Linked DNA regions of Homo sapiens: regions 2, 3, 4 and 5 are each reported to be linked to region 1. The links are microRNA targets in miRTarBase. Many come from high-throughput screens and were not tested one by one. Region 1 holds a microRNA gene; each other region holds the end of a gene's coding sequence.

Evidence for each region. Region 1 holds the annotated microRNA hsa-miR-4289 (GCAUUGUGCAGGGCUAUCA, at 2,290-2,308, opposite strand). A microRNA usually pairs through its seed, bases 2 to 8, with sites in the 3' UTR of a target mRNA and lowers its output. Matches are read on the target gene's strand: a 7mer-m8 pairs with bases 2 to 8, a 7mer-A1 pairs with bases 2 to 7 and ends in A, and an 8mer does both.
Region 2: miRTarBase lists ZNF620 as a target of hsa-miR-4289. The part of its 3' UTR that is shown has no 7-base or 8-base seed match.
Region 3: miRTarBase lists CEP350 as a target of hsa-miR-4289. Seed matches in the 3' UTR shown: 8mer at 2,924-2,931 and 7mer-A1 at 1,447-1,453.
Region 4: miRTarBase lists CFAP418 as a target of hsa-miR-4289. The part of its 3' UTR that is shown has no 7-base or 8-base seed match.
Region 5: the mRNA of SLC25A21 is a reported target of hsa-miR-4289. Seed matches in the 3' UTR shown: 7mer-A1 at 499-505 and 8mer at 603-610.

The regions. Positions count from the first base shown.
Region 1 is chr9:88,743,588-88,748,696 of GRCh38, forward strand. It overlaps MIR4289 (microRNA 4289), which reads right to left and starts at 2,318; the gene lies at 2,249-2,318. RefSeq lists an enhancer at 3,542-4,230 and a silencer at 4,127-4,421.
Region 2 is chr3:40,516,087-40,521,195 of GRCh38, reverse strand. ZNF620 (zinc finger protein 620) reads right to left here. Exons shown (of 5, transcript NM_175888.4): 5 at 2,460-5,109. The coding sequence ends at 4,333. Among named protein-coding and RNA genes, the nearest start is that of ZNF621, 6.3 kb to the left of the region's middle.
Region 3 is chr1:180,110,723-180,115,831 of GRCh38, reverse strand. CEP350 (centrosomal protein 350) reads right to left here. Exons shown (of 38, transcript NM_014810.5): 38 at 957-4,835. The coding sequence ends at 4,671. Among named protein-coding and RNA genes, the nearest start is that of QSOX1, 42 kb to the left of the region's middle.
Region 4 is chr8:95,242,900-95,248,008 of GRCh38, forward strand. It overlaps CFAP418 (cilia and flagella associated protein 418), which reads right to left. Exons shown (of 6, transcript NM_177965.4): 6 at 2,014-4,871. The coding sequence ends at 4,718. Among named protein-coding and RNA genes, the nearest start is that of CFAP418-AS1, 23 kb to the right of the region's middle.
Region 5 is chr14:36,675,830-36,680,938 of GRCh38, reverse strand. SLC25A21 (solute carrier family 25 member 21) reads left to right here. Exons shown (of 10, transcript NM_030631.4): 10 at 220-3,018. The coding sequence ends at 281. PAX9 (paired box 9) reads right to left here. Exons shown (of 4, transcript NM_001372076.1): 4 at 1,577-4,741. The coding sequence ends at 4,487. Among named protein-coding and RNA genes, the nearest start is that of PAX9, 17 kb to the right of the region's middle.

The sequences.
Region 1 (5,109 bases):
TGAGTTCAGACAATTAAGAAATAATAGTATTGTTTTTGTTTTTAAAGAAAGGATAAGAAGAAACGTGGGCCTCTAAAGATCATCATGGCAAAAGGTAGCCCTGCTTGCCTTCCAGTCAAAGCCTTCCCGGCTGGTTTGTGCAAAGCTCCAGAGCCGCCTGCTGCTCCTCCCCTGAAATGCTTTGCTTGTTTTCAGAAGTGCTGCATGGAGGCAAGAGGCTCTCTTCTTGGTTTTCTAAATTCACATCTATCTTAGGAAGGGGGTGGAACTGCACACCCTGGGCTTCGCTGTTAGTGGGAGATGACGCGGCCATCCCTCATCCCTCGGGATTGTGGACAGGGTGCTGGCCTGCAGAAAAGGACATACTGGGGCTTTATTGCTTCTGGGCTGGGAAGCGTTTCAGGGCTCCGAAGCCCACACCCATCTGAGGAAGCGCTGCTGCACTGGCCTGGGCCTTGGGCAGGTGGCATCAAATCCGATGCTGGGCTCTCACACGCTCTGCTGGGGCATTATGGACCATCTTTGCAGTTTGGCATGTTCCAAATTAACAAGGGCTCTGCTCTGTGGCCTCTTCCTAGCTGTTGATTCTGAGTGAGTGATCATTTTAGTAGAATTTAGATGTTCCAGCCTGGCATTCTGAGGGCAGCTGTCCTTAAGTAGAGCAGAGACAGAGATGAAGCTACAGCTGCAGTCTGTGATCAGAGCCAAAGCACGTGGACCTCCTGCAGCCCCTAACCCTTCTGCGTCACGAGCACCCTAAATTGCAGAAGGAAGCTGAAGGGGCAGAGGGGATATGGTGATTTTAAACTGTAAGGAACTTCAGGGCAAGTTTTGCACTGATTGGGTCTTTGCAATGTAATTTTTCTTAAAAAGCTTGTTGTAAAAGCATAATTAGAATGTTTTGCACATTTCTTTCTATTCAATGGAGAAATTGCACTGGGTAGATGTCACTCAGAATCCAGTTCTGGCCCTTTCAGGGAGTGAGACTTTAAAACAAGTACACAAGGTCCCACTACTCTTGGTGAAACTAAATGGGGCTGCTCAACTCCATTCCCAATCCCCATGGAAAGTGTGTGGTGAGCTTTCTCAAGTAGCAGCAGCCGACAGTATTAACAGCATCTCTACATTGTAAATACATCCATGGAGGGAGAAGGGAGGAGCTCTGTATAAACAGGAAAGTATAGAAGGGGCAATCAGGGCTGAGCTGCACCTGGGTCAGTAAGGTGGCTGCTCCCTGAGTGCAGAGACACAGCCTGTCCTGCCAGGAGCATGAAACCTATTCAATCAACATTTTTGTATGAATGTGCATCAGTGATCCTCAAGATATTAATAGGAGTTTCAGGGGACAAAGGCATTCTAGCGGCCCAATGAGGAAACCCCACAGTAAACAGGCTTAAATTCTTGTAGCATCTGTAATGTTCTGTGGGCATCCAAAATCCCAAATGTGTGTTCAGGGACACTTCCTCAGTGTCCCTAAACACACATTCTTTGGAGAGGGGTCAAAAGACTTATTAGTCGCTCCCAACAGAAGTGTCCAAGGAACACAAATTCAGAAAATAGCAATTCAGCTGCACTTCCTTATTTGCAGGTGAAAGCCGCCATTTGGTTTAATGGGAAGAGGTGGTTTTGGAGTCAGAAGACTGAGACTGGGATCTGCCTCCTAAGGATGATGGGTATTGGAAACTCACGCCTATGTATCCATTTGTACATTTGAATAGGGGTGTAGTTGTGGCAATGATCTGTAGCTTTTACTGAGCACAAGGTAGGGTGCCTAGAACTCAGGAAGTGTTTAATAAATGATAGCTCTTGAAATTACCAATGGAAAACTGAGTCCTGGTGAGAACCAACTGGCCCAAGGCCAGCCAGTAAGGGAGGTACAGGGCGGAGCTGGGTCTGGGTTTCTTGCCTCCCCATCAACATTCTTTTTACTGTACTACACTAACTGAGAATAGAAGTTGTACATAGTTGTATTTCTCTTATAAGGATAACAAATCAAATAGATGTTGCCAGATGTTTCTGTTTCACAGAAGAATGAAGTTAATGGTTGTATATCAGGGCTCAAACCTAAGATTTAAAGAGAGATTGCTGAGCAAGAGCAGCCATAAAAGATGTCTATGTTGGTATTTCAGCATTCCTGGGCCGCATAAAGCACCATTTGGTCACATCTGGTCTCCATCAGGCCTGAAGTGTTACATAAATACATGCATGGTTTATAGGGTAAGGAGGCCCTGTTGAGACTGGCCAGATGTGATCTGTTTAGGCTCTGCAGACAGGGCCCAGGAAACTGCCTGATAGCCCTGCACAATGCCCTCCCAAGGGACAGAGCTCTCTGCTGCCATCAGTGCATCTAGGGCAGAGATACCATGCTAGCTGCTGTCACTCATGTCCAACATGCTTGGGTGTTCAACCTCCCTCTGTAAAAGCTCTTATTATAGACAACCAGTGGAGTTCAGTTCAGAAGTTAGAGAACAAAATGCTTTAATGACCTTGTGGGCTCCATCCATCCATCCATCCACCCATCCACCCATCCACTCATCCATTCATCTACCCATCCACTTCACCCACCCATTCATCTATCTACTCATTCATTTATGCATTTCTGCAATCATTTACCCACATGCCCATTCATCCATCTACCCATCTATCTCCATCTATATTCATCCATCTTTCTATCCATCTATCCATCCACCTGCCTGTCTGTTCAATCTGTCCATCCACCTATCCAACCATTCATTCTTATCCATGCACCCACCCATCCACCCTCCCATCCAGTTATTCAATGAATATGAGCTCCTTGCATGTGCAAAGCACTAGTCTAGGCGCAGGGAATCCCGCAACAAACAAGTCAGGCATGGAGCTGACATTTGTATCATGTTCCAGAGGGGGAGACAACATTGAGTAATTCCACAATTATTCATTGGCTAGGGTAATAAACTCTCAGAAGAATTACAAAATGCTCCAAGAGTGTGTAATAGGAGATGCCTCCTAACTAGGAGGCCAGAAAAGGCTTCCCTGACGCAGTGGGAGTGCCGTGGGGCAGCCCGGAGCTCTGGCTACAGCCCTGCACCCACCCTGGCTACTGCTTGGTTGGTTTTGTTTTCCCCAGGCCTGCCGATTTTACAGTTAACTCTTTCCTCCATATCATAAGCTTCCAAAACAAGGTTATCCCTTGTTTAGGTAAAACCATTAAAATTTTCCTAGTATCAAGTCCCCCAAGCAATCTAACTAAAAGATTGAATCACAAAATAGAAAAGTCCCTTCTACCACAGCTAATGCTGGAGGAGAATTCCAGGGATCCCTGCACAGCAGTCTCAGGGCAGCATGCCTTCCTCCCCAGGCCACCCGGGGCTCTGAGGAAGGCTGTCAGACTTCGGCCCCTTCCTGTATACTGAGCTCCTGACCACAGTCTTGTGCCGGTTTTGCTTTTTTAAAAGGGACAAGCAAACAGGAATCTTCCCCATGCCTACCCTCACTCGTGCACACAAAGTGGGCCTGGCTGTCATTTCCTCCTGGGGTCTGATCTCTGTTTTATGCTCCTGCTTGTTGATTCTGACCCAGGTAAGCCACACAGGGAAAAGCCATCTCCCTGCTCCTTGCTTCGGGGCAGCAGAGCCATTTCACACACACAAACACCCTGCACCCCAGCTGCCTGGTTTCAGTGGCTGCTTGCTTATGGCCAGACAGCCGAAGGCCAGGCAGGGCCCGGCCTCTGTTCTCAGGTCTCAGCAGTGATTATGCATGCGAGGTAATTACACTGGTCTTGTTTCCGTGCTCTAGGCCTAAGCCTGGATATTCAAGGAAGGGAGCCTCTGGTTTTTTGCTACGTTATAATTTCTTTGTAGGGACAGGGCTCTAGGCGACTCCCAAATGGGCTACCTGTGCCGTGGCCACTCATTTCCTATTGTGCAGAGTAGCAATTACACAGCCAGAGGCTGGCCATGGGTGGGTTTGTTCTTCTCTGTGACATGTATTTTGTGAAACAGAAGAGAGGTCCTCTGTTTCTGAAAGCAACTCTTAAAATAAATACACCAGGCTCCTCCAAGGAATATCTGCATGAGAAGAAGTAAGCTACTATGTCTAGTGGCTCTCAAAGTGTTTTGGCGGGTTGGTCAGTCGGTCCACACAGGGAGAGAGGGGCAGGACAAAGGCCTCACCTCCCACTCAACACTTAATCCTGGTCTTGGGAAAGTTAGCGTTTGCCCACAGGTGACATGTTCTCAGGGCCTGACTACCTGCGGGTGGACACCAAGGATAAGCTGTGTCTTGAATTTTTTTAAAGCTTAAAAAGAAATTACTTCCAGCTGTGCATCATGAGAAGACACTGGTTGGTGTGTGTGAACCGATTTGCAGCACAAAGGGCCCCAGAGTACTTGGCTGGGCCAGATAGTGATGATGACTCATGCTGTCTTTACAAGATACTGCATAAACCTAGAGCAAGACAGAAGTTCCTCCCTCCCGACTCCACCCCCTGGCTTTATTGAGATGTAATTGACAAATAAAGCTTGTATACAGTTAATTGTACAATGTGATGATTTGATGCATGTGCATATCATGAAGTGACGGCCAAGATGAAGCTAATCAGCACTTCCACTGCCTCACATGGTTACCATTATTTTTGTGTGTGTGAGGACACTTCAGTTCTACTCTCTTAGCACATTTTCAACATACAGTACAGTATTATTAACTATAGTTACCATGCAGTTCATGGATCCTCAGAACTTAAGTATCTTATCACTGGAAATTTGTACCCTTTGACCAAAATCCACACAGTTTTTTCCTACTCCCCAGCCCCTGGTAACTGCCCTTCTACTTTCTGCTTCTAAGAGGTCAACTTCATTAGAGTCTGGTGCATATGTCTGTACTATGGAGTAGTATTCAGCCTTAAAAAAGAAGGACATCCTGCCGTTTGTGACAACAGGGGTGAATTCAGAGGACAGTGTGCTAAGTGAAAGACGCCAGACAAGAAGGACAAATACCAGATGGCTGTTCCTGAGAATCGAAGCAGGAAGAAGTTGCCCTTGACACTGAGCCCTTCCTGTGGCCAGAGGAAGCTGAAGGCAAAGAGGGAGGCTGGACCGTCCAGGTGAGAGGCACCTGACTGACCAGTGT
Region 2 (5,109 bases), not on the chromosome of region 1:
CAAACTCCCAGGAGGTGTTTTGTAGAAAGTGAAAAACTGATTCTAAAATTCATATGGAAATGCAAAGGACCTCTAATGGCCAAAACACCTCGACAAAGAACAAAGTTAGAGAACTAACACTATATGACTTCAACACTTATTAGATTTCAACACTTATTAGATAACTATAATAATAAAGGCAGTGCCTTAATGGCATCAAGACAGACAAACAGATCAATGGAACAGTATCTAGAAATAGACCCACACATATATGGACTTCTGCTTCACAACAATGGTACAAAGGCAATTCAGTGGGGGAACTTTTTTCAAAAAATGGTGTTACAGGCCAGGCAATAGTGGCACAGACTTGTAGTCCCAGCTACTCAGGAGGCTGAGGCAGGAGGATCACTTGAGACCAGGAATTCAAGGGTACAGTACACTGTAATGATGCCTGTGAATAGCACTGCACTTCAGCTTGTGCAACATAGTGAGACCCATCTCTTAAAAAAGAAAAAAATGGTGCTACAATAGGATACTTATATGAAGAAAAAGAAAAAAACTTGGATCCATGCCTCAGACAAAAATTAACTCAATAGATGATAGAATTAAATGTAAAACCTAAAACTATAAAACTTCTGGCCAGGTGCGATGGCTCACACCTGTAATCCCAGCACTTTGGGAGGCCGAGGTGGGCAGATCACTTAAGGTCAGGATTTCGAGACCAGCCTGGCCAACATGGCAAAACCCCATCTCTACTAAAAATACAAAAATTAGCTGGGCATGGTGGCACCTGCCTGTAATCCCAGCTACTCAGGAGGCTGAGGCTGGAGTATCGCTTGAACTTAGGAGGTGGAGGTTGCAGTGAGCAACCTCCGAAGCTGCAATCATTGAGATCCTGCCACTGCACTCAAGCCTGGGCAACAGAGTGAGACTCTGTCAAAAAAAAAAAAAAAAAAAAAACACAAAAACTATAAAACTTCTAAAGGGAAAACTTTAGGAAAAAAATCTTTGCAAATGTGGGTACAGCAAAGATGTCTTAGATTTGACACTGAAACCATGATCCATTAAAAAAAAAGGCTAGACACAGTGGCTCATGCCTATAATTCCAGCACTTTGGGAGGTCAAGGCAAGAGGCTCGCTTGAGCCCAGGAGTTCAAGACCAGCCTGTGCAACATAGTGAGACCTCATCTCTATTTAAAAATAAAAAACTGATAAATTGGATTTCATGCATATTAATGTCTTCTGCTCTTTAAAAGACACTGTCATGATGTGCACCTGTAATCCCAGCTACTCGGGAGGATGAGGTGGGAGGATCACTTGAACCTGGGAGGCAAAGGTTGCAGTAAGCCAAGATGGTGGTACTGCACTCCAGCCTGGGTAACAGAGTGAGACCCCATCTCAAAAAAAAAAAAAAAAAAAAAAGACACCATTGTGAGAATGAAAAGGCAAACCACAGGCTAGAAGAAAATATTTAAAAATCACATATCTGAAAAAGACTTGTATCCACAATAAATAATGACCTCTCAAAGATTAATAAAACAAAAACAACACAATAAAAACATGGGCAAAAAATATGAGCAGACACTTCATCAAATAAGTTATATGGAACACAAATAAGCACAATAGTCATTAGAGAAATGCAAATTAAAACCACAATGGGATAGCATTAAACAATTAGAATAGCTAAAATTTTAAAAACTGACATCAAGTGTAGGCATAGATGTATTGGAAGTACAACTGTCATACAATGCAAGTGGAAATGTACAATGGCACAACCTCTTTCGTAAAACAGTTTTGAAGATTCTCAAAATGTTAAATAGGGTATGGTGGTGCACACCTGTAGTCCCAGCTACTAAGAGTAGGACAGGGGGACTGAGGCAGGAGGATACCCTGAGCCCAGGAGTTTGAGTCCAGCCTGAACAACAAAGCAAGAACTGCCCCCCACCAACCTCTAAAAAATAAAAACATAATAAAAATTTAAAACGTTTAATCTATACCAATCTACCTAATGACCTAGCCATTCCACTCCTGTATCAAGATAAATGAAAGCATATATTCTTACAAAGATGTGGACACAAATGTCCATAGCAGCTTTATTTGTAATAGCCAAAAACTGAAAACAACCCAAATGGCCATCAACAGGTCAATGAATAAACAAATTATGGCATATCCATACAGTGGAATACTACTCAGCAATAAAAAGGAATGAACTATTGATATATATGCAACAACATGGGTGAATCTCAAAGTAATTATGCTGAGTGAAAGACACCAGACCAAAAAATAAAGGAAAATTAATCCAAGTGACAGAAAGCAAACCAGTGGTTGCCTGTGAAGGGCCAAGAGGAAGGGATTATGGAGGGGTACAAGCAAAGTTTTGGGGTGGTGGCTGATTATTATCTTGAACTGTGATAATTGTTTCACTAGTATATTGATAAGTCAAAACTTACCAATAGGATTATAATAATAGGTAAAAATTTTTTTTTTTTTTTTTTTGAGACGGAGTCTCAATCTGTCACCCAGACTGGAGTGCAGTGGCATGATCTTGGCTCACTGCAACCTCTGCCTCCCTGGGCTCCTGCCTCAGCCTCCCAAGTAGCTGGGACTACAGGCACATGTCACCCCACGCCCAGCTAATTTTTTGTACTTTTAGTAGAGACAGGGTTTCAGTGTGTTAGCAGGATGGTCTTGATCTCCTGACCTTGTGATCTGCCCACCTCAGCCTCCCAAAGTGCTGGGATTACAGGCATGAGCCACTGTGCCCGGCCAATAATAGGTAATACTTTTATTATATGTAGTCACTGTTTGAAACACTTCTACAAATAATGCATTTAATCCCCAACACAAACCTATGAGGTAGATTAACTGTCATCCTCATTTTACAGATAAGGAAACTAGTGCAGTTTTTGTAACTTAACCAAGGACAAACACCTGGACTCAAACCAAAGTCTGCCTGGCTCTGTATTATTAATCACTACTCTCTGCTTCCTGCAAAATCAAGCTGGCTGCCAGAGGGGATGCTAAAACCTAACACATTTACATCTTCCCTCATTTCCACAGGTAACAGCAATAATGGTAGGTTCTTCCATGATCATAAAAAATAACTAGATGGAATTGCAAGAAAATGCTGCCTGCTTTGAGGTCACTTGAAACAGCAATGAGAATAAATTTAAGACAAATGGTGCCTTGCACCTGACTCAAAGAGTATATACATCCTGACTTTTGCAAAGGCACAGAGTACAACTGTCTAGTGAAGACAAACTGAAGAATAAGTAGGGTGGGTGGACACTGAACCTGAGATAGGTCTCTGGAAGTTTGCACCCTACTAGGAATGTCTTCCAAGATGCATTTGGCTCCACATGGACAGGGCCCGTTTTTGAATTTAGGAGACTTCTGACGTACGGACTGCAATAGGGAATCCATATATCTGTCTTTTTATTTACTGGTTTACTCCTTGTGTAGTGTTGCACATATGAGAAAGGATGCATGGGAGATAAAGATTTCAGATTTAAAGGGTCTGAAATGCCTTTATTCTATACTTATACTTTGGAGTATAGAATTGCAGGGGAAAACATTTTCCATGAGAAGTCTGAAGGCATACACATTGTCATCTGACTTTGAAGGTTGCTCTTGAAAAATCTAATGCCATTTTCATTTTTTACTGTTTTTGAGACAAAGTCTCACTCTGTCGCCCAGGCTGGAGTGCAGTGGTGCGATCTCAGCTCACTGCAACCTCTGCCTCAGGGATTCAAGTGATTCTCCTGCCTCAGCCTCTCTAGTAGCTGGGATTACAGGCATGCGCCACCATGCCTGGCTAATTTTTGTGTTTTTTTTTTTCAGGAGAGACGGGGTTTCACCATATTGGGCGGGCTGGTCTCGAACTCCTGACCTCATGATCCACCCGCCTCAGCCTCCCAAAGTGCTGGGATTACAGGCACGAGCCACCGCGCCTGGCCCCGCTTTCATTTCTGATCTTTTGTTTTCTCTCTCTAGAAACTTTTTAGGGTCTCATTTTTTCTCCATGATCCTCTTATTCAAACTTGGTGTTTTCATAATTCACAGCAATTTTCCTTAATGTAGGTTTCCCTTGAATCCATCCTGCTGGGCACCCAGCATGTCCTTTAAATCTGGAAACTTACATTTCCTTTTATGTTTCTAAGTTTGTTTGTTTGTTTTTTGGTCTTCTCTAACCATAAAGAGACTTCATGTTGGGGAAACAGGTTCAAAAAACTTAAAGAAGAGTTCATGATGAAAGCCAAGTGTCTAACCAGGAAGGACAGCGAGGACACTGATAAAAAGCATGAAAATAAAGAGAAAAAAGGAGAGGCACAGTGGGCCTAACTATGGATAGCCCTATGCTTGGACAGGTGTCTTCTGAGTGTGTAGTTTCTGATGCAGAATGAATCTTCCACACCAGCTGAAGGTTTTACCACACACTTTACACTCATAAGGTTTCTCGCCAGTGTGAACTCGCTGGTGCTGAATCAGGGTTATTTTCTGATTGAATGCCTTCCCACACTCCTTACATTCAAAGGGCTTCTCCCCAGTGTGAATTCGCTGATGCTGAGTCAAGGCTGTGTTGGAGCTTAATCGTTTTCCACACTCTTTACATTCATAAGGTTTCTCCCCAGTGTGCATTCGCTGATGGACAGTGAAACTTGAGCTGCAACTGAAAGTTTTCCAACATTCGTTACATTCATAGAGCTTCTCCCCAGTGTGGAACCTCTGGTGCTGGAGGAAGACAGAGCTGCTACTGAAGGCCTTGCCGCACTCCTTACATTCATAGGGCTTTTCTCCAGTGTGGATTCTCTGATGCTGAATCAAGGCTGTGTCTGAACTTAAACCTTTTCCACATTCTTTACATTTAAATGGTTTCTTTCCAGTGTGAATTATCTGATGCCGAATAAGTAATGAGTTATATCTGAAGTATTTTCCACATTCTTTGCATTCAAAAGACTTTTCACCAGTGTGACATTTCTCATGTCGGTGGAAGTCTGCCATTTGAATGAAATATCTGCCACATTGTCCACATTCATAAGATATCTGACCACTAGGATTTGTCTGATTTGTAGTGAGTTGTGTGCTGACGCTAATATTTTTTCCTAATTTCTCAAACTTCTCTCCATTCTT
Region 3 (5,109 bases), not on the chromosome of region 1:
ATTACAGGTGTGAGCCACCATGCCCAGTCTCAACTATCTGTTTTATGAGAGGAAGAATTTCTTAGGACCTACTGTAATTTGGGGCCAATCTTTTTCTGAGAATTTCCGAAATGTTCATGGTTGTGGTAGGGATTAAAGATATAGCAGGGATGGCCATCTGGGGGAAACTAGAGGAATTCAGGTAAGATGATGGTGGTTACCACTTCCGATTTGTCAGACCAGAGACAATTCATTATCTTGAGTGCTGTACACTTCCATCCTTGGATTGTTTTTATTCTTCTATCACTTCAGCTTCATTCTCCTCCAAGCTCATATTTCCAGAAATAAGTTACAGCCTCCACACCTGGGCATCAGCTGGTTGCACTTCTTCTTTGTGGTCCACTTGAGTGTGACTCTTCCATGTGTTATTTTGCAAGGGTTATCAAAATTTAGGTCATTTGGGAGAAATGGCATTTGCCATGAATTAGAAGGAAGAAGCTCATAAAACAGTTATAATTTATCAGAGAACTCTTCCCTGACTCACTCTACCCTTGTTGGGTCCTTTTATTAAGATATTCTCAAATCTTATGTATGCTTCCTGTGCAGCACTTGTTAGAACTTGTCACACAGGTTTTCAAAATATCTTTTGGTGGCTTTCATTAGACATTAAGTTTCTTGAGATCAGGGACCATGTCTGTCTTTTTTGCTATGTTTCCAGCACTCAGCACAGTACTCAGAACACAAAGTTGCTCAGTGGCTATCTGCTGAATCAATGAGTGTGGGAGCAAAGCCCAGGCTGCTCAAATGTATGTGCTGATGGCATTTATGTGCAGGTAAATAGCTCTTATCCACAGCTTACCTGATTGTACTGTCCAAGCATCAGCACCCTATGACTAAATAAGCAATCAGATGTATTTTATGGGGACTAATTTTCTGAAGTTGGCTCAGGAGGGAAAAAATGGAGACCTGACATGAAATTAATTTATAAATCAGTTTATTTACAGATTTTATCTTTCTTAAAGTATATTTCAGTTAACAAATCTATTTACACAGGTATACATGGGAATTCATCCCAGTTATTTTACAGATCGTACTTACAAACCACACCCTTAAGTGTTCGGTGCAAAATTGCACTGGATGTGACTATTGGCTGAAAATGGCCTGATGACCAGGCTATTTACACGCACACAGTAAACGGGTTTATTTTTTCATGTCTGCACAGTACAGTACACACAAGGAGGCTGAACCTCCCAGAGAATGCTTTGCAATGTGTTTGCCAAGAAGGCTTTGCAAAGTCCAGAAGGAAAAGCTATTAAACATAGGTTAATTAAAATGACAGTACCTCCTTTACATCAGTTTACATTTTTTCTTCACATTTTTATAATACAAAGATATTTTATTGAATTGCTGCACAACCAGTTGAAGATGATTTGTAAACATGTAAATTCCTACAATTTGCATTAAATGTCATTGTAGTTTCTATAATTTGCTCTTTGAATTAATGTTTTATTCACTAGTATTCTTAAGGTAGTAAAAGGAAGATGTAAGTTTGTATTTCTTGCAGAAAAGTTATGAGTCTCTAATGCTGTGCTACAGAAATTCTTTTGCGAGTACACACTTTATTCAAGTATTGCAAAAAGCTAAGGCCACTTTTTTTTCAAGACAAGAAACTGAACAAAATTGTTTTTATCAATAGGCCACAACACTCTTATGAGCAATGAAATCTCTTTTGAAAGATAATTTCTCAGAGACCTGTAGTCACAGAAGGAATTTTCTTTTCTTTTAGGTAAAAGAAAAACAAATTACCTTCCTTATTAACTACGTTTGAGCTCTCCCCACTTTTCCCTATGGTAAAAATTCCTGTGTAGACCTGAAGAGGGAATCTATACCCTGTACTTGTTTAACCCAGAGTTAACTACCCTGGATAGCACAAATTGTTTTGGACTCAGAAGTAAATCTGAAGCCTGTATGTTGGTTTACTGCTAAATTCTGATAGTGCTATTCTAAAAGATATTACTGCTGATGCAAAGATATTTTTCTTAGAGGAATTATGAAGGAAGAGTGAAAGAGGATGAGGGTGTAGGGAGAAGGAACAAAGATTAGAAAGAGGGAATATTTAGGTTCTTGATTAAGAGGCAGAGCTGATTTAAAAAGATACCAATATGGAACGAGTGGCTGGGTATCCACATCTATCTTTCTTAATCCTAAGAATAAAGCCATTTCAATTAGATCCAAATAGTTAATAAGAAATCTGCTAATTATGGATTCTTTTTTCTTTTTTTTTGCTACCAAACTACAGATAACCATTTCTAGAAAAGAATAAGACTGATCCATTTCTGCCTCTCATGTGGAGCCTAGGATTCTTCAGATAGTAAAGACAGTTGGAGTCTGTCAGGACAGCTACTGCCACATTCTTGGCAGCATTTCTTACCAGATTGCTGATTCCATGACTTGTATTTTTTTTTTCTTTTTCTGGAGTCATAATTTCAGAAAGAGTAAAGATAAACTTTCTTATTAAAAACTGGTTTTAGGTCCAAATAATGAAGATGTAGAAAAACAACCTACAGTCCCATTATAACATTTTGAAATTCATTTATAAAAAATTTACAGCAGCTGTAAAGTTTCAGTATCGTAAGGACAACGTGATCCTACAAACAGCCAAAGGATGTAGACAAGATGTTTTTCTGTCTTCCAAATAACACAAACTGAAAAGAAAAGCCTTTGCTTTTCCTTGGCCACATAAAACTAGTATTTCCACACTACTGGTTAATAACCCCAAGAAACCTTTGCTTCTCTTAGTCAATTTGCTCATTATGGCTACAAGACTACAGCTCAACATCACAAGCCCAGAAGAAATGCTGGTAAGACATCAATCTGAGCATTTCCCGAGACCCAATCACAACATTTCAGTGCTTTCCTTATTTGTCAAGAGCTATCATACCAGTCATTGTGCAAAATGCAAATATTCCAATGATTATTTCAGTACATTTCTTAAACGACAAGATGAAACCCAAGAGGAATGGGAGTGTGCATAGTGAAATATTTAAGATGCAAAGGCAAGTTTGGAGGGAAGATGCAGAAATAAACGAACGTGCACACTTAAAGATTATACCATCTTTGGGGTTTTTCTAATATACTTTGAAGCTATAACATTCCAGGATATTTGTAAATATGAATCCAGTAGATGTCTTGTATCATGCTTCTAACCAGGACCTTCAATATTAAGGCATTTACATTCACGCCTAAGAGTATCCACATTCTTCTAGATTACTTGAAGAGGGACAGGACTGATGAACGGAAACCAGTCAAGAAGGCAGGGTACTGAGGTCCCAGGAGAGCATCTCTTATGCTCTAATGTAGCAGCTGGAGTCTATAGATTTTTTTTCAGATGCAGGTAATAGTTGTGAGAAGCAATGCTGCAAGAGAGGCAGAGTTAAATTGTACAGTGTTTTTAAATCATTTTATCCCACTGCTGCTATTGCAGGTGATCTGGAAAAGCCCATCTTCGTTTCACTGAATTAAAATGACTTCTTCAATATGTGTATTGGTTTGTTAAAACCACAGGTTCCTGTGCAAAGACTATGAACCATAGAAGCTTCAAGATGGAGGTTTAACTATTACAAGATGAATCTTTCACTTCTGAATAGGGACACACATTTTCAACTTAATAATTTATCTTAAAATAAATTAAAAAATGTTCCATAGCGCAAAACAAGCACACAAACAATAGACAATATCTTTTTGTCTTTGGTGCACACACTCATTTCCTAAATCATTCAAGTAACAGCATCTCTGACTTCTTGGGGAAAGATGGGAGTTGAAGGTTTGCAGGCCAAAATGAATTATTTCCACTTTGCCATGCCTGGATGCCTGAGATGGTCCTGAGTATCTGTGATTCTGGGAGCAGCTGGTAGAGATTCAGAATGAGTAAGACAAGTGCAGGAGTAAACCAAGGGGTAAAAGAACCAGCCCTGCATTGGTCCTTTGAGCCCAGTCTTCAGTAGGGGCATTTCTTTGTTTTCATGCCCACACAGAGAACACTAAACATAATGCAGAGGTTTAAAATTCTTTAGATGGTGCTCAGAAAGCAAGGCTACCACTTATTCCTGTTAGCCTGACAGTCCACTTGGTGCTGCTCAACTACAATAATGGAAGAAAATGGTCTTCAAAAAGAAATGAAATAAACTCCAGAATGTGAAGTTGGCAGACATTATTGAGCTTGCCTATTTTAGAAGTGGTTAAGGGTTTAATACTGTTTAGAGACTATAATGTCCATTTATGACTTCCATGGTATAGACCAGAATTACATTTCAAAAGTGATGTGATGCATTTATCTATACCTCTCTCACTTGACTTCAGACTCAAAGAAGTGATACCCTAGTCTAAACTCAGAGGTAAGTCAGGTGTTTCTGGCCCTCTGGGACCTAGTAGGGGTGTTAGCAAAAGGTGTAGGATTACACTGTGCAACCCTGCCCACTGAAAATAACCCATTAATCCAGTGGATAGTCTCGAAAGGCAAAGGCTGTAATACCAGGTGTACCACATTGTCCTATGAACTCCATACTGGTAGTCTTTAAGAATAAGTACAAGGTCCAGAAGCACTCTTGCTATGATGGCGATGGGTGTACATCAGGAGGCAGAAAGGCCCAGGACTCACATTAGCACTCAGCGTTCGATTTATTTGCAAGATGTCACACAAGTAGCATTCTCCCCTGCTTTTCACTGATCTGATTCAGAACATCAATAGTATCTTTGATCAGGGTCTCAAAGATCCCGTCGGCTAGCTGCATTTTCACACACAACTCATCCTCATCATAGTTCACCCACTGTGCCTCCTCCTCATGGAGCTCCTGAACCTAGGATTTAGAAGACAATAAGGTTAGAAAATTCCTGTCATACAAAAGCTAGAAAATATAATTGCTGACTTTGTAGTCCTATCCATAGGAATACAGCCCAAGGAAATAAACCAGAGAAAAAAGATAATTCATATGATATCAATACCCCTTTTAAAATTGCAAAAAGTTGAAAAAACCTCAATTGCCAAATATCAAAATGACTTCAAAAATAACATTTGACAATATTCAAGTATTTCATATATATTAAAGATTACCAGTATGTTGTCAATGTCAA
Region 4 (5,109 bases), not on the chromosome of region 1:
CAGATGAAACTGAAAAGATATCGTGAAAGGCCTGAATGCCTTCATGATGACCCACTTAGGTTTAAGCCACACAGAAAGAGGCAGGCTAGGGGGAGCATCTTTTTTTTTTTTTTTAATAGAAAAGTTGTGGCTTCAACTTATATAAAATAAAGGTCGCCATGTGTACAGTCACTAGTTATAAATAAATGATCGCATTGCTGCTTTCCTCATAGGGAATAAATAAAACAAACATCTTTACAAATTACTTGTTGTAAGAATCATGCTGCACTATTACTTCAATTTAGACAGTATTTATTTTAAAAGGAAAAAGAATGAGAACAAACCATTGTGGAAGACAGTGTGGCGATTCCTCAAGGATCTAGAACCAGAAGTTCAATCCCATTACTGGGTATATACCCAAAGGATTATAAATCATTCTACTATAAAGACACATGCACACGTATGTTTACTGCAGTACTATTCACAATAACAAAGACTGGGAACCAACCCAAATGCCCATTAATGATAGACTGGATAAAGAAAATGTGGCACATATACACCATGGAATACTATGCAGCCATAAAAAAGGATGAGTTCATGTCCTTTGCAGGGACATGGATGAAGCTGGAAACCATCTCAGCAAACTAACACAAGAACAGAAAACCAAACACTGCATGTTCTCACTCATAAGTGGGAGTTGAACAATGAGAACACATGGACACAGGGAGGGGAACATTACACACCAGAGGCTGGTTGGGGGCTAGGGGGCTAGGGGAGGGATAGCATTAGGAGAAATACCTAACATAGATGACAGGTTGATGGGTGCAGCAAACCACCCTGGCACGTGTATAATTATTTAACAAACCTGCACGTAACCTGCACGTTCTGCACATGTATCCCAGTACTTAAAGTATAATAATAACAAAAGAATGAGAACATTTATTAAGCACCTATTCTGAACCAAACACTATGCTAGTCACTTTTCATGTGTTATATGATTTAATCCTTACAACAAACTTACAAAAGTGGTATTATAATTCATACAGTTAAGGCGAACGAAGCCCAAAATGTCATGTGACTTTCTAAGGGACACGACTCTGAACTCTGACTTTGTTAAACTTCATTTGGTCATCCCTTATCTCAAGGCATTTGGGGAAAGTCAAATTTAATTATCATGTACTTGTATATATACATATCTAATGCAATCTTTTTTCTTTTTTGGTTTTTCTAGTGCATTCTTAAAATAGGGCACAAAATGATGTCACAAACCCAATGAAATACAATAAGATATGAAATCTCTAAAGAGATTGCGTATTTTAAATTTTTTCTTTCAGGAACTATTTTATACAAGAGATATTGCTGATTACTGGGAGCATTAGGTTGGCTGATAGAGATTTTGTTAAAACATTAGAAATATCAGCATTTGAAATTCATGGCTAAGCTTCATCACAATGCTTTTGGATACAAAGACCTTTTTCTTTCATATTCTTAAATATCAGTAAGAAAAAGAGAGAAAGCAATTCAGATTCATAGTCTGATGACATATTCTCTGGCCTAAGAAAAAAAGGTACTAAGTTTACTGACATCAACGAACAGGTTCTAGGTATACACCGCCAAGTCAGCATGGCCTGTTCTTCCTAAACTTGGACCTGTTCCTTTGAATACCCATGGTACTTTACACATGCATGCACACACATACTCTCTTTACACATGCATGTACACACACACACACACACACACACACACACACACACACACATCAGAGTTATGGCATACTTCTCCTCCCCAGTGTAGACAAATTATCTGTTTAACTGGATGCTTGGAAACTTTTCTGTTGACATTAAAAAAATTTTTTTTGACTGGGCATGGTGCTTCACACCTGTAATCCCAGCACTTTGGGAGGCTGAGGTGGGAGGATCGCTTTAGCTCAGGAGTTCAAGGAAGCAGTGAGCTATGATTGCACCACTGCACTCTAGTCTGGGCAACAGAGAGAGACTCTGTCTCAAAAAAAAAAAACATCAAAATGATTTCAAATTAATGTCCATCCAAATGAATATTTTACTATAAAATAAAAGAAGTAAATAATACAGAGTAATTATTTATTACTTATTCATTTCTAGGCAGGATGAGGGTCTGAGAGTATAATACAGTTCAAATAAAGAAGTTACCTGGCTTAAAAATAGCTACTTGCTAAAGATAGAAAATTATTATAAATCTTAAAAACAAACAGGCAAAACATCTTGAAAGTTTTATAGGCTTTGCATTTTAAAATTATAGATGATTAGAAACTATACTTTTCTTCTATACTGATACTAAAATAGTTTCATTTTCAGCTTAAATTACAACAGTTAATAATTTATCTGACTGTATATAAACATAATATTCTTTCTACATTTTAGTTTAAAATAGTACAATATTAAAAAGCTTATAAATTGCCAATAAACATGGGAACTCACACATACATTTCTGACATTGGGGGATTATTATAATTATTATGTTATGGAATGCCAAACATAGGCAATGTATGTAAGTTTTAGGATAGTTATAATGAAATAATAAAAGGGAAAAAAAAACCAGGACAACTTTGTCCCTTCAAAGTAGAGGCAATGTAGGCTACTTTGGGAGGCTGAGGCGGGCGGATCACGAGTTCAGGAGATCGACATCATTCTGGCCAACATGGTGAAACCCTGTCTCTATTAAAAATACAAAAATTAGCTGGGCGTGGTGGTGTGTGCCTGTAATCCCAGCTACTGGGGAGGCTGAGGCAGGACAATCACTTGAAGCTGCGAGGCGGAGGTTGCAGTGAGCAGAGATCGTGCCACTGCACTCCAGCCCGGCAACAGAGTGACACTCCATCTCAAAAAAAAAATTTTTTTTTTCAAATTAGTGATTTAGTAAATTTGCTTACTGGAATAAAAAAGAAAGAATTGCACCATTATGAATAATGTGTCAAATTCTATGAGGTTCTAAATGTGTGGATCTTGTTGCTCTGCTATTTTTTTCCAGCAGTCGACTTCAATCGACATCCCCCTAGGTTTCTGACTCAATTACATATAGATATAACTTTAGGGATATAATACATTTTTATTAAAAGATAAAATCTGTCATAATGTCTTTTTTTTTTTTTTGAGACAGAGTCTCACTGTGTTGTCCAGGCTGGAGCGCAGTGGCGCGACCTTGGCTCACTACAACCTCTGCCTCCCAGGTTCAATAAATTTTCCTGCCTCGGCCTCCCGAGTAGTTGGGATTACAGGCATGCACCACCGCGCCCAGCTAATTTTTGTATTTTTAGTAGAGATGGTGTTTTATCATGTTGGCCAGGCTGGTCTTGAACTCCTGACCTCAGCTGATCTGCCTGCCTCAGCCTCCCAAAGTGCTGGGATTACAGGCGTGAGCTACCATGCTTAGTCTGTCATAATATCCTTAATACAAAAGTGTGAGGATTGGCCATTATAAGATCTATTCTGTTGCAATGCTAGACTTACTACAATAAATTTTACAAGTATGTAAATGTGTCATGGCTAGGAAAAGGATTCTAATGATCAGATCTTCCTCCCTTCAGTAGGGTGGCTGGAATAAATTTAGCATAAGACTAAGAAGATTATAACTTTGTTTCAATTATTCCCTTTCAGGGTGCTCTGTATCACACATTTGAACTATATAGTACATATGTAGCAGGGAGTTTGTGGCAGATTGGAAAGCTCCCAAAATCTCTCAATGGGGTTGGGAGCTAGAAATTTTGAGGGACCTGATTTCCTGAATGTGCTGCTATTGTAGGGCTCCTCAGATCTCAGTGATGTCAGGAAGGAGCCCAACAGGTTACCTGTTGGTTCAGTTATGCTTTACTTGTCTTTTCACTTACTCACCTAATAAACGATATGTCAACCTGATCCTACCAGAGAAGTCCACAGGCTGCCTGAAAAATTATATTACTTGCTGTTTACTTCCCTTGATGGAGTTTTAGGCATTAAAGGATAGAAAGTACTTGGAAAATCCAACAATAACCTGTATGTATTAGGATTTTTGTGATTTTGGGTGCATCAAACTCTTTTTATATATTATTGGGTAATCAAAATAGAAAATAACTTTTGATAGTTAAATGAACAAAAGAGGGAAAAATAAGCTAAAACTGGTAACATGTATTTAATATTGTGCATAACATTGCTTTGAGTTGATGAGGTAAGATCAGCTATGAGGCAGTGTTTTTGCAAAATACCTGTAACTACTTCTGAACACCCTTCAGTCAGCCACTGATCACCTGGTTTCTGCCATGTCCAAATTATGATCTTTGGCAACAAAAGATCTGACTGGAAGAAGTGTTGTAGACACCCCTAAATGATCTCTTTGCCCTGGCCGGCTTTATCCACTTTAACTGCTACAAGTTGGGGAATGATTTGCTAAACGTATTAGCAATCAATATTGCAGTTGCTAATGAAAAACTAGATATTTGTATGGAACTCCATAATCAAACCTCTATTAAACAGAAGACAGATTAGTAAAGAATGTAGATGCCTGTTACTAAGTGAAACATCCATGTATCAGGAATAATTCCAAAGTGTTATAATACATGATCTTCCTTAGTCCATTTGGTCTTCAAAAATGTATGTAGTTGTATCAATAAAATTCACTGCCTTTTCCCACAGGGAATGGTATTGCTAGGGACTATTGTCTAAACATGATGATGATTCATGGAGACCACTCTCATGGATGCATCTGTCCGAATGTGCAGTCTGCATTCTTAATGTTTACCACAAACCCAGCGAAGCTGATGATCTGTCTGAAGGTCAGTCACTTCTTCAATAGTTCTCCAGCTACACTGGCAGGCATATGCCCGTGTTCCTTTCTTCTTTATCAACTTTGCTTTTAATTTGTGAAATTCTGGCATGTTGTTCCTATTAGTAAAACAGGAAAGTTTTAGCATAGTGGCTTTGTTCAGTGCTTAATGATTAAAAAAAAAAAAAAAGGTCATTGCTTTCTTTTCTTTTCTTTTTTTGTTTTTAGGAGTCTCATTGTTACTCAGGCTGGATTGCGGTGGCACAATCATGGCTCACTGCAGCCTTGACCTCCCAGGCTTCCCCTCAGCCTTCCAAGTAGCTGAGACCACAGGCATGTGCCACTATGCCCGGCTTA
Region 5 (5,109 bases), not on the chromosome of region 1:
CATGGGGAAAAATGTATTTGGAGACTCAAGATGGTCTTGATTTTATCCTGAGAATTTTCCACAGTAGTTTATATCTTGGTATTGAAGCTCCAGAACTGTTGATTCCGAACAGCCTCTGCCTGACAGGCTGTGCGAGACATCATGGATTCAGAAACCCAGTGGGAAAGCCAGTGCTATTCCAGAGGATTTGCAATAAAAAACAGCTCTTTTCTTTTCTAGGTGGTGCAGTGATGCTGCTGGTTTATGAATACACCTATTCATGGCTTCAAGAGAACTGGTGATTGCCTATGAAGTGTTTTTCCCCCTTGAGATAATGGATATTTGCTATGCAGCACCATGAAGAAGAGAGACTATCGATCGGCCAGGTGTATAATTATGAAGGAGAAAACTGTTCAAGAACAAAATCTATTTTAATACTTTAAAAAATGTCTATAGGCAACTTGAGATTATAGTTTTGGCTGTATAAATAAAACTGTGAGAAGAAAAAAATAATATGAAACAATGAGGTATTTAAAGTGAATATAGAAAAATAGCATAGAAATCATATATTTATTTCATAAAATAAATAGAAACTTTGTCTCCTGTGTTCCTCTTCAATGCTTCACAATGAAAATTCATTGTATTGATCAGCATTTTTCCTAAGAGGTCTAGAAATGCTTAAACTATTGAAAATAAATCAAATTATTCAAAGACTGGATTAAAAAAAAGTTAAGCCAAAATTTAAGCAGTTTTTATAATGAATTAAATTATTCCATAAATAATATTTAAAGAGCACAAGAAAAATTTTTTAAAGTGCACTAAAATGACCTTTTAAGAATGTTTAATTTTATGAATACTATGTTAAAATGTAAATCTGTTGGTTTTTTTTAGTAACTATGCACATATCAGCTCTATTTTCCTACATCTACTTTATATCTCATATTGCTGTAAGATAATAAATAGGTATTTTAAAACATTGTTTAAAACAGAATGTTAAAACACTGTTGTTTAAGCATGTTTAAATCAAGGTATTCCAAATCTCTTCTAACACAAGTAGGAAACATGAAATAAAATTTACTTTCCTCCACATAGTTCTCTTTGAAGATAAGTTTTGTTGATGAGATATTGTCATGTTAAATCACAAATTGGAAACACCTTTGGACCCATTTGTCAGCCATCAGTATTTGCATCCAAATACCTTTATTCAGCATGCCTACCTGTGCCATTTTTAGGAAGAATGTATAGAACAGAACTGCATTTTCAGGTTATTAGTTTTAAACGACAACTTCAGGTGGGAAGTCAGCTGTCTGCAGTATTAAAATATGTATGATGAAGGGGAAATGTTCTGAAAAAGAAATACACTTAGCATTTCTAAGGATTACTATACTAACATGTATCAACAAAAATATCTCCTTGGTCTTGATGTAACCAAACTTGATTTTATATCTGCATCCAGAGATGATGCTGATTCAGTAAAGTCAACAAGAATAACTGAAAGTCCATATGACACCTGTCCTAAGTTACTACCGTGGGCTATTTCTACTACGGGGCTATTTCACTAAAGCATTTTGAAAATAAAAAGTAAAAGATAACATGGTAATTATTACTTTTTATTAATTTAGAGCATTTGAAGTATAAAAATAAAAGGCTTTTGACATACTGTATATACATACATAGCCTTCTGTTGTACATCCTTTCCAACGTGTTTTTTAAAATTTATATTTCAGTCCAATATTCAATAAAAGGGTCATTAAAAACAAAACAAAATTGTGAAAAAAAAGAAATAAGAATGTGTCTCTGTTGCACAACTGCATTCTATCCTTGCAGGTAATATTCTTACATCCAATGAGAGCGCTGCCTGCATAGAGGTCATGAAATTGAACCTTTAACCTCTCCATGTGGATCAGATAGAAAAGGATTTCTGAAGAGTGCATTTGCCAGTTTAAAAGCAACACTTTTACCATCTATGAGATAGAGGAAATATGTCAACATTAACCAATAATAATCTTTAAAAGTTAACCCTTTAATCCATCCTATTTTCCTTCTCGTATTTTAAAAAGTGGCTTTAAATCATAATTTTCTTTGAATAGCAAATTGTATCTGATATCTTTTAAAAATTACTCCATGTGAATTCACTGTTAAGACCTAGAGGGAGAAAAGGAAACTTCAATACCATTAATATTAGATTTTTTAAAATACAAGAACCAGAAAAAAATTATAAATAGCACAATAACAAGAGATTTCTTAATTTAGATAAAGAAAATAACATTATTTGCATTTCCACACAAGCAAGTAATATTTTTTAAAGCCCCCTAACAGCCACCTAAAAACATTTGATAAAGAATAGTTCTGTACCTTACATCAGTTTTTCAGATGACAGGAGAGTCCCTGTATGGTATGGTTTTAAAGAAGTCTCCACCAAAATATTGGATTGGATCTTTGTTCCATTCAGTTTATAGTCTATTTTCTCACCAGACTGGGAACTCCAGATGTCAATGGAAGTTTTACAAGATCAAAGGAAGACTATGGCCCTGAGAGTTCATCTGCTCCTTCTGCTTATTCTTCTCCTGAAGTTATAATCCTCTATTTGTAGCACTGAATTTCGGTTGCTTTAGAAATAAATGCAGTTCAAAGCTCTCTATAAGATATCTGCTGTCTGAAAAAAGCAGTCACTCTAACATAATTTGTGTGTCAGAAATCTGCTTACTGTTTACATCCTAGTGATTTGAAAACCTAACTAATCTAGCCATCTGAGTTTTAAACGAAGCCACGAAACCGATGTGGTGGAACCGCATTGCCATGTAGACTGTGCACAGCACAGACCGGAAGAAATTAAAATCACCTAGGGAATCCATCTTCAACATCCATATCCAGTGAGGTGCTCTTTTAGTTATTGCACAGAATTAGTACCAAAAAACCCTCAATATATTAATTTTCCAACAGCTGAATTGTACCAATGTCCTAAAAACATATTTTTAAGCCTATATTGCCAAACAGGAAGAACTTCCTAAACAGAAGGGATTAAAAACTGTAGAATTTTGCCCCAGAAAATCAATTGTTTTAAAATACAACACATACTCACATGCTCACACACACATATACTCCACAACTGTTATTAACATTAAAGTGAAAAATAAATTGGTCTAGAAAGGTTTATGAGTTAAACTGTGTCCTGTAATTTCAGAAATGAATAAAGGGAATTTGTTAAAATTAAATAACATTGTATTTCTAGTACCACCACCAGTTTACCTACATGCGAAACATGCTTCTGTACAACAATGTAAACTTCACAGCAAGCCATTGTTACATTCATTAGAGCAGAATTTTCCATTTTCTTTAAATTACAACATTATTTGGGGCTGAGATTGCTGAACACACAGGTAAGCCAACAATAATAGGACAATTTAGTTTCACAGTGGTTTTCTTAACACAAAGTTCATTTTAAGCATCTTTGCAAAACATTTCACATTAAACTTAAGTTTCTAAGTGACTTCCTTTAGAGCCTTCTTGTTCAGATATTTTCCACCCTCTTGTCTTTATATGCTTAGCATGTGTGTTGTTTGATTAGGTACAAAATGGGAGACTGGCTTGTTTTATCTGTTTTTCGTGTCCTCTGCTGTAGAAATAAAGTGTCCTTCATGAGATGTTGAAGCCTTCACTGCATACACAAAATTTGGGGGCAAGTCCAGGTCCAGGAGCCCGAGCAGCCCACCACCAAACAGAGACAAAGACGTTGCCAGAAAGTCACCTTTGCAAAAAAGAAAGAAAAAAATAGAGAGGGGGTGGGGCTGAGGGGAGGGGAATATCTTATGGAATGAAGACACAAATGCACCATCCAGAGTCCGTATTTACAAACTAATAGAAAATATAAACATTATTGTATTTGGAACCAAGTCAAAACACCAGGGAGAGCTAGATTCAGATATTGCTTGGGTTCTACATATATTTTTCAACAAAATAGGTCATGTCTTAAACAAAGGATCACTCAAACAAGTCACTTATTGATTTGTTTCCTAATGATGAATTAAAGCTTACTTGGTTACCATATTTGATTAGAGGGTGTAGCATAATTTTTTCTATAAGTATTTTCCTTTATTGATTTTGCAAAATCTCAACAATTGCACATTTCAAAAGTTCAGGTTGATTTAGAATAAATATACACATGTGGTTTTACCAAAGACTAGTTTGTAAAGTTCCTTAAACCCTTTGAGGGGTGTAGGTTTCTTTGTTATGTTAAGACAGTATGTGGGCAACACAAATGTCTCATTCAATGCTTATTGTTGCTCTTGTTTTTAAATCCTAAAGTCATGTCAGTTTTTCTGCAAGAGAAAAGTTATGGCAAGAAATATGTAAGTGTCATTAGCACAAAGGATGTGAGTCCGTACAGCCAGCTTTCAAGGCAGAAGGGTTGGAGGGCAGGAGGGGTGGGATGTGAGACCTGGGAATTGGGGGAGGAGGTGCTGAGACAGGGAGACCCGGGTGAAGCTGCTGGAGACGGAATTTCCCATCAGAGCGCGGAAGCCGTGACAGAATGACTACCTTCTCTGGCTGCCTGCATTCCCTTGAACGCCAGCGATGCCGGAATGTCACAGTTGTGGGGAGACAATGAGGTGCCCCCAGCATGTTGCCACCCATGTCCAGCAACATAACCAGAAGGAGCAGCACTGTAGGTCATGTAAGGCGACACTTGGGCTGGGGTAGGGTAAGGAGCCATGCTGGATGCTGACACAAAACTGCCCACAGCTGGGAGACCATTTGGTGCCTGAGAGGAGTAGAAAAGAAGTGAAAAATAATCACATTATAGGAGTGAACATTTCACACGTTCTTAGAAAGAAGCAGAACTTAAGTCTGAGTAAGCCAGCAATGCTCTGACTCTACTCTCCAACTTTTTAAAAAAATTTGAGCTTTATTATATTCTAAAGACATTCACAGTCTTGCCACTTAAACAAACATAATGACAAGATATTATTCTTTCCACAAACATTTAGAGAAAGCTGCAACCAGAAAATTCGTAGTATTTGCTTGTGCCACTTGGAAGTACAGGAAGGAGGTGCAGGGTGAGAAAAGAATTAATGGCAATTAAATACTCTTAGAATCTGTTCGGCTGTCCTCATTGCCTTTGTCAACCTT